2 separate regions of the Homo sapiens genome follow, and region 1 is linked to region 2. The links come from fine-mapping of genetic effects on gene expression. A gene starts in region 2. The other region holds a variant in brackets. All regions are shown on one strand. Distances are from middle to middle.

Region 1 (4,000 bases), 23 kb after region 2:
GGCCCAGCTGCTGCCCCAGCAAAGGGCAGGACACCTCTGAGGAGCTGCTGAGGTGGAGCACTGTGCCTGTGCCTCCCCTAGAGCCTGCTAGGCCCAACCGCCACCCAGAGTCCTGTAGGGCCAGTGAAGATGGACCCCTCAACAGCAGGGCCATCTCCCCCTGGAGATATGAGTGAGTCTGCTGCCCCTCCCGAATGCCTGCCCTGTGTGTGCTGGCCAGGGTATGCGTGAGGGACCAGGGCAATTCCAGCTTACTTTCCCATTTTGATCTCAGAGGGGCTGTAAAGGTTTGGGAGTTAGACAAGGTCTGTATTTGAGTCCTAGCTCTGACTCTCATTGGATGATCTTGAGTCAATTCAAGTTTTCAAAACTCAGGGTTTTTTTTTTTTTCACCTGCAAAATGATATAATGCCCCATAGGCTAATGTGCAGATCAAATGAAATATAATGTATGTAAAAGTCTGTATTTATGTTGGTTCTCTCCTTTTCTTTTAAAACATCCCTATAATGGCCCATGTTTTTTCTGGGTAAAATATTAGGGAATAATGGCATGATACAGGCATGAAGCATCCCAATACCAATTGATACTGCCCTGGCCATGAATGGGTTAGTTATAAGCATACTAAAGGAGTGAAACCCTTAACTTTTGGGGGCAGCTGGCTGGCTGGAGCTGTGGACTGGATATCTTTGATCATGATCATGGGTACTGTATTCTTTCACTCAGTGTGCCACATAAATATTATAGTTCTCTATTTGTGCCATGATATGAAAAATATTAGGAAGTGCTGAAATATGAATGATGAAGCAAAATATTAAAAACTAGGGTCTTAGGGATTCCAGACATGTGATTTCACTTCTTCCTTCTAGTTCTGTCTTAGCATTGGCTTTGGGGGTAGATGGAGAAGTTCAGTGGTGGGGAGGGGGTCAGATCTAACTGAGATTGGATCTAGTGTGGACACTACAGGTCATGACTCTTTGGAGTGGTCTCAGAAGCTGGCTGGGTCCTGGGCCAAATCAGATGGCATGGGAGCTTCTTAGGGGAGGCGGGTGCCAGAGGTTAACTCAGCTGTCTTCCAGACCCCTTGCTGGGAGTCTGTGAACCCGAGAACCACTCAGGTGGCTTTCCCCAAAGTGTGTTCTGTGCAATGCTCATCCCATGAGCTGCTTCTCAGAAAAAAGTGATGCCAGGTAAACTTGGGAAAGACTGCTGTATCTCCTACCCCTTGGAGATTCATACTGTCATTGTACATTAAAGTCTGCAAGAAGTCTGTAGAAAGTAAACCGTTAAACTGGTGTTTCCCAAATTCATTTAAGCACCCAACAGGTGCAGGTGATTTATTAGGGAACCCACTTTGGGAAGTGATGTGCTAGCTAATTCCATTTGCCAGGGCTTGTCTGTGTGGGGAATGGTCCCACAAGCTGGAGACTGTCGCCTGCCAGACTAATGGAGTCGCAGACCTGTGGGACATCTACTTTTCAGTGTTTTTCATCTTTCTTTCTTTCTTTCTTTTTTTTTTTTTGCCATGAAATCCTTTCAGAATAAGTAAATAAGTCTTCCCATGCACTCTCAAGTATGCTTATAATATAAGCTTGCACAGCGTCTGGAAGAATGTGCAGGAAATAGTTGAGGATAGCTTCTTCTGGGGAGTGGGGCTGGTAGGGAGAGACTATTAACTTTCACTCTTTATACTCTTTAATACTTGGATGTCAGAGTGGTTTTTACTTTTGCAATAATGCTATAATAATAATAGAAACACCACCTAAAGTCCGGCCCGGTGGCTCATGCCTGTAATCCCAGCACTTTGGGAGGT[C/T]GAGGTGGGTGGATTACCTAAGGTCAGGAGTTCAAGACCAGCCTGGCCAACCATGGCCAACATCATGAAACCCCATCTCTACTAAAAATATGAAAATTAGCTGGGTATGGTGGCGGGCATCAGGAGAATCGCTCGAACCCAGGAGGTAGAGGTTGCAGTTGAGCCAAGATCGTGCCACTGCACTCCAGCTTGGGTACTCCGTCTCAAAAAAACAAAAACAAAAAATCAAAAAACAAACAAAAACACCTAAAGTGTAATCATTACAATAAGAAACCTCATGCTGAGTCAGATAGAAGCAGTGCTGGTCAATGGAGGCTAAGGCAGGAGCCTGCTCACCCTCCCCTGCCTCCCTCACGGTCCCAGGACCAGTTGGAAAGCACTCTGTCACCTGCTACCCTCATTTACAGTGGGGAAAATTTAATAAAGGAGGGAGGTGACTTGTTCAAAGTTACACAGCAAGTGGGTTCAGAACTGAGACAAGAGGCCAAGGCCCCAGACGGACCATTTCCTTCTTCTGGCACTCCCATGCCACCCCACCCTCTCTGTTTCCGGCCCATCTTTCCAAGGCCTGACAAGTGCCGCCCCCACAGGTTGGACAGAGACTTGAACCGGCTCCCCCAGGACCTGTACCACGCCCGTTGCCTGTGCCCGCACTGCGTCAGCCTACAGACAGGCTCCCACATGGACCCCCGGGGCAACTCGGAGCTGCTCTACCACAACCAGACTGTCTTCTACCGGCGGCCATGCCATGGCGAGAAGGGCACCCACAAGGGCTACTGCCTGGAGCGCAGGCTGTACCGTGTTTCCTTAGCTTGTGTGTGTGTGCGGCCCCGTGTGATGGGCTAGCCGGACCTGCTGGAGGCTGGTCCCTTTTTGGGAAACCTGGAGCCAGGTGTACAACCACTTGCCATGAAGGGCCAGGATGCCCAGATGCTTGGCCCCTGTGAAGTGCTGTCTGGAGCAGCAGGATCCCGGGACAGGATGGGGGGCTTTGGGGAAAGCCTGCACTTCTGCACATTTTGAAAAGAGCAGCTGCTGCTTAGGGCCGCCGGAAGCTGGTGTCCTGTCATTTTCTCTCAGGAAAGGTTTTCAAAGTTCTGCCCATTTCTGGAGGCCACCACTCCTGTCTCTTCCTCTTTTCCCATCCCCTGCTACCCTGGCCCAGCACAGGCACTTTCTAGATATTTCCCCCTTGCTGGAGAAGAAAGAGCCCCTGGTTTTATTTGTTTGTTTACTCATCACTCAGTGAGCATCTACTTTGGGTGCATTCTAGTGTAGTTACTAGTCTTTTGACATGGATGATTCTGAGGAGGAAGCTGTTATTGAATGTATAGAGATTTATCCAAATAAATATCTTTATTTAAAAATGGCCTAATCTGTATTTGGCATCCGTGGTGCCTGAACATCTCGCGGTCTCCCAGCCTGTCCCTTCTCCTTTCCACCATTGGCCCTCACCTCTGTCCACCCTGCCAGCTCTCTCCGCCCTCCAGAGTTTCCGCTGCACCCTCCCGTCCTCTCCCATCTCTGTCTCCCTGGCCCATCCCAAACACCAGGGTGGGGGCTAGGCCGCGCTCCCGGCATGCTGGAGAGACAGAGGCCCATTGAGGCATTGCAGCAGGCACAGAGCGCCCCCTTGTCCCCCAACAATCCGCCTTTGTCCTCCAGTCCTGGCTGCTGCAGCTTGGTCCTGGGGGTGCTGCCTGGGCTGGGCTCCAGCTCACACCCTCCCTAAAAGGAAATGGGAGAAAGGACCGGCCAAACAAGAGGGTTAAGGTTAGAGAAGGGGGACACAAATGTCTTCAGGCTTAGGTCCCTGGGGGCTCCCAGTCCTGCCCCTGTTCCTCTACTCACATCCCAGCTCCTCCCAGTTTCTTTTCGGACCTCCTCCTCTCCCCTTCCTTCTCTATTCCAGGCTGGGTTGGGCTCTAAGCAAGGGGAGGGATTAGAGCCTCCTTCCTCTCTGCCCCTCCCCATGGGTCTCTAGGGGGCTGGTGCAGGCAGCAGCAGAGGCACTCTGGGCAGCTGGGTGAGGGCCCATCTGGGCAAGGCCCCCAGCGCCTGCCTTCTCTCCCGGGGCCCTGTGGGCAAGCCTCCTGCTTCACTTTCAGGTTTCTCGAAGTGCCTTCTTGCTCCTGTCTGTTTCCCCATCCTGCCAGATTTCTGTTTCTCTTGCTGGGCTTTTGGCAGTAG
Region 2 (4,520 bases):
GCCACTGCACTCCAGCCTGGGCAACAGAGCGAGACTCCATCTCAAAAAGAAAGAAAAAAGAAAAAAAAGAAAGAAAAAAGAAAGATCAGTGGGGACATAGACATGGGTGTATTAATCCATAAGGTAGGACTATTGATCAGTGGGATGAATCTATTAATCCATGGGAATAATCAGTAAGGATAAGGTCACAGACCAGGGGAGATGAGACTATTGGTAAGTGATTATGGTCACTAACTATGAGTTAGTGAAGACATGGTTACTGATTCTTGGAGGCTGGGCTATTGATCTTTGGGGATAAGACCATTGATCTATGGAGATGAAGATAGGGAGCCTCTGGTCATTGCAAAAGGGGCACCAATCCCTGGGAGTTAGGCTATTGATCTAATGGGGTGGGGCATTTTTCCATGAGGATGGGCTTATTGGTTAATGTGCTGAAGGCTACAGATTTTAGAAGACCAAATTATTGATCTTTGGGGATGAAACCATGGTTCCATAGGAATGAGGCTACTGGTCTGTGGCAATGAGGCCACTGATGCATAGGGATGGGCTATTGACCTGTGGGTTTCGGATCATTGGCCCACAGAGGTGTGTGACTATTGGGCAGTGAGGATGGGTATTGATTTTAAGGAACTGGACTATTGAATGTTGGGATGGCTTTGATCCACAGAAGTTGAGTTATTAATCCACTTGGATGGAACTGTGGATCAATGGGGCTGAGTCTAATCGGAAGTTTAGTGCAGTGAGAGCATCTGGTCAGTGGTGAAGGTGACCAGAATCAGAGATGAGATTTTTGATCTGTGGGAAGAGTTATTGGTTGCTGGGATTGGGTTGTTGATCTCTAGAGGTGAAGCTACCGACTCATGGAAACGGGGATTTCGGTGAGAGGATCTCAAAGCCCTGAGGATCCATGAGGGTATGACTGCTAATCTATGGGCTATTCCCCTACAGAGCGTTGGGTCATTTGGTGGCAGGCATGGGACTGTGGGTTACTGGGTCTGAGGATATTGTCTTTGGAGATAGTTAGTTGACTTGTAGGGGAGGGGTCGCTGGTCAGAAATGGGGTAATTTGTTTGTGAAGTTGAACTATTGATCAGTGGGAATGGAGCTGTTGGTGTTTAGGAATTAACATATTGATCTTCAGGAATGAGGTCACTGAGATGGAGCGAACAGTCCATGTGGGCTGTTAGTGGGGATGAGACTATTCTCTTTGGAGATGAGGCCATTGATTCACGGATAGGGGGCCACTAATTAGTGGGAATGGGACTAATAGTCCATAGAGGTCGAGTCATTCCCTTGCGCGGAAGAGGTAGGGAAGGGGTATTTCTTGATGGAGAGTGAAGTTGAGACATGGATAGACCATTGAATAGAAGTCCAGAGAAGACTGCAGAGTCCAGCGAATCGTCTTCGACCTCCTGTAAACGCCCGCTGCTTGGGTTAGCTTCCCTAGCACCCCCTCCTTTCTACCAGCCCTGCCCCCACGACAGCCCTCACCTGTCTGCGGGGTAACCCAGGAACAGGTAGCCGGAGGCAAAGCCCAAGATGAAGAGGATCTGCTCCAGGATCACCTGCCAGCCCAGGTCACACACCAGATCCCACTGGGGATGTGAGAAGGGTGCAGCGGGCGTGAGGCCCCGCCCTCGCCGCTCTCTGCCCGCCCCCAGACCCGCGGCCCGCCTGGCCGCCTCACCTGGCCGATGGCGTTGGTGGTGAGCACAGGAAGGCCATTATAGTCCCAATCCTTGAGGCAATGGTTGAAGTCCGGCGGGGCGAAGCCGCTGCACGAGGGGTCGGTACTGGTGGCGACACGGCTGGCGGCGCTGGCTGCTAGGGCAGCGCTGGCGACGCTGACGCCGCTGGCATTGGGAGGCTGCTCCCAGCCAGAGGCATTAGGGGGGAAGGCCCCGTAGTGGCAATGCAGCGGGGGCGCCAGCGTGAAGATGGGGTCCGAGGCCATGCCCAGAGCCACGAAGAGCACCGGCAGGCAGCAGAGGCCGAGCTGCAGCTGCTGGCCGCCGCCCAGCGCCCCCACCTGGGCGAGCAGCGCCTCAAAGCTGAGGGGGCCTGGGGGCACGGCCAGCGACAGGCTGCTGCCCAGTCCGTCGCCGCCCGCGTCTCCCTCCCCCTCCCGCTCGCGCTCCCGCTCACCCTGCAGCTGCTCCGTGGGCACCGCATCTCCGAGGGTCCCGACCTGCTGTTGGGGGGCAGGGGGTGGCAGGAGAAGGGTGAAGCGGAGGAAACCGCAGAGCAAGGGCAGGGGGCAGGTGGGAGGGAGGGCTAGGAAGGCAGTCAGGGGCGAGGGATGCGCAGGAGGAAAATGCCAGACGCTCCGCGGGGGCGGGGGTGCTGGGAGAGGATGGCGTCGCCACCTGGGGCTCGGGCACTTACTCCGTTGGAGGTGGGGGTGATCTCTACAGTGTTGTCGATTTTGCCGCCGCCCCCGCCATTGGGCTCGGGGGTCCCGGTGGCCACCCGGGGAGCCAGCTTGCCGACCGCAGGGGCCCTGCCGGCCCGCGCCGAAAGGATGCGCTGTCCTCTGGCTCAGTTGCGCGCCGGCTGCCCGGACACAGACAGCTCGAAGAGATCCCGCTCTGCAGCTCTGCAGCCGCGGGCGCCTCCTTGGTCTCTGCGATCTCTGCGCTGCTTTCCCCTCCCCTTCCTCTAGACTCTCCTCCCCTTCCCACGTCAGCAGAACCTTCGGTCCAGACTCTTCGTCAGAGAGAGGAAGGGGGGCCAGGGCCCAGGGGAGGGAGGGAAGGGGGGCTCTGTCGTCTCTTTCCTGGGTCTGCGGGCCATTGCGGTAAAAAAGAAAAAAAGCTGAAGGATAGTAGCTAGTCCAGGCAGATGCCAGAGATTCTTCCTCTGCTTCCAATCATTTGCCATCATTCATTCATTCATTCATTCACCCATTCACTAATCAGTAAAATTTAAGTGTCCACTACGTTCCAGGACTTGCACTAGACTTTAAGGATAACAGGGTGGACAAGTTCCACTTTGGAGACCTTTACTCCAGGGAGACAGACATGTAAACTGGCTATTACAGTACAACTTATGCATATGGAAGACTGTCTTGGCCCTGTATCAGCCCTAGCTTCAGTCCTCTACAAGGAGACCACTTTCTTGGGTTTCATCACTCCCATCCTGTTTGAATCTCCATTTCTCAACAGCATTTGGCACTGTTGACCCCTCTTCCTCTAAACACTCTCTTCCTTTGCTGCTGAGTCTCTCTTGCTCCCCTTTTCTCCATTGCAGAAATCGTCTTCCAGCTCATGGCATTGGTGCTGAGCATGGGCAGGCCATTATCCTCCCGGTTCTTGAGGCAATGATTGAAGTCCAGCGGGGTGACGCAACTGCAGGAGGGGTCTGTATTGGTAGTGATGAGGCTGTGGTGCTGGCTTCTAGGGCCATTCCCGTCTGTATCATTTAGACACCATGGTTCAGTGTCTGGAATCCTCACAGACTTAGTCCTAGGCCCTCCTCTCATCTCACACTGTCTCCACTTTGGGATCTTACCTATGCCCACAGCTTCAATCACCACCCATACAAACAATACAAACCTGACGCCCAGACTGACATCTCCAGCTTCCACCTCTGTTCTGAGCTCCAGACCTATGAAGCCACCTCTTATTTGACCTTCACCTTGGATGACTCACAGGGACCTCAAACTCAATATGTTCAAGACGAAATTTTTGCTTTTCCCCCATAACTTGGTTGGCTTCCACTGCTTTTTTCTGCAGCGAATGGCACCCTCAACATCGCATTGTGGCCAAATGCTCAGGCAACAGCCTTTAGAGCTTTCTCTTCCTTATCCATGTTGAATTCTTTACAAAATTCTGCCCATTTTACTTCCTATATATTCTCAGACATCCCACATCTCTCCATCTCTACCATTATTAGTCAAGCTACCTGTTGCAAAGACCACTTTAGCTCCCTAATTCCTAACTGGTGTTCAGCGTCCGCTTTGTTTATACCTCCTTATCACCCATATGTCATTTATAGTCAGATAGAATGATCTTTTCAAAATACAGATCTGATCATGTATCTTTCCTGCTAACCAGCCTTCAGTGGTGTCTCCTCACTGTCAAAGTGAATATTAAAAATCTAGATACCTCATACATGGTTCTACATGCCTGGTCACATGCTGTCTGTAGTTCCATCTCACTTCTTTCCCCAAACTCTCTGCACTCCAGCCACAGACCTTCTTCTAGTTTTCCCAGCGCCACGAGGCCTTTGAACAAGCTGGTTCCTGCACCTAAAAAGCTTCTTAGTCACATTTTTCTCATCCTTCAGCTCTCAGCCTAAACATCTTTGCTACACAGGAGTCTTCCCTAACCTCTAGAATTGCTACTCAAAGTGTGGTTCATGGACCAGCAGCATTCCTGGGAGCTTGTTAGAAATGCAGAATCCAAGCCTCACCCAGACCCTTGAATCATAATCTGTATTTTATCCAGATCTCCAGGCATAGGTATTATACATTAAAGGTAGAGACACACATCTCTAAGAGATTTGTTACCTGATAGGTA

Direction of the effects. Alleles are on the strand shown, and positions count from the first base shown. SD is a standard deviation of normalised expression in the study named.
For the expression in subcutaneous fat of the gene that starts at base 2,627 in region 2, T is the high allele of the variant in region 1 and C is the other (large effect, 1.4 SD a copy in TwinsUK).

The links. PIP is the estimated chance that this variant, and not a neighbour inherited with it, causes the effect.
Region 1: its variant is the best candidate, but not a certain one, in a credible set for the expression of SLC22A17 in subcutaneous fat (TwinsUK, PIP 0.70).

What each region holds. Positions count from the first base shown.
Region 1 is chr14:23,373,225-23,377,224 of GRCh38, forward strand. It overlaps IL25 (interleukin 25), which reads left to right. Exons shown (of 3, transcript NM_172314.2): 2 at 1-172; 3 at 2,401-3,179. The coding sequence ends at 2,656. CMTM5 (CKLF like MARVEL transmembrane domain containing 5) reads left to right here and starts at 3,822. Exons shown (of 6, transcript NM_001288746.2): 1 at 3,822-4,000. The variant C/T (reference allele first, on the strand shown) is at 1,811.
Region 2 is chr14:23,350,261-23,354,780 of GRCh38, forward strand. SLC22A17 (solute carrier family 22 member 17) reads right to left here and starts at 2,627. Exons shown (of 10, transcript NM_016609.7): 1 at 2,386-2,627; 2 at 1,688-2,191; 3 at 1,492-1,595. The coding sequence starts at 2,481.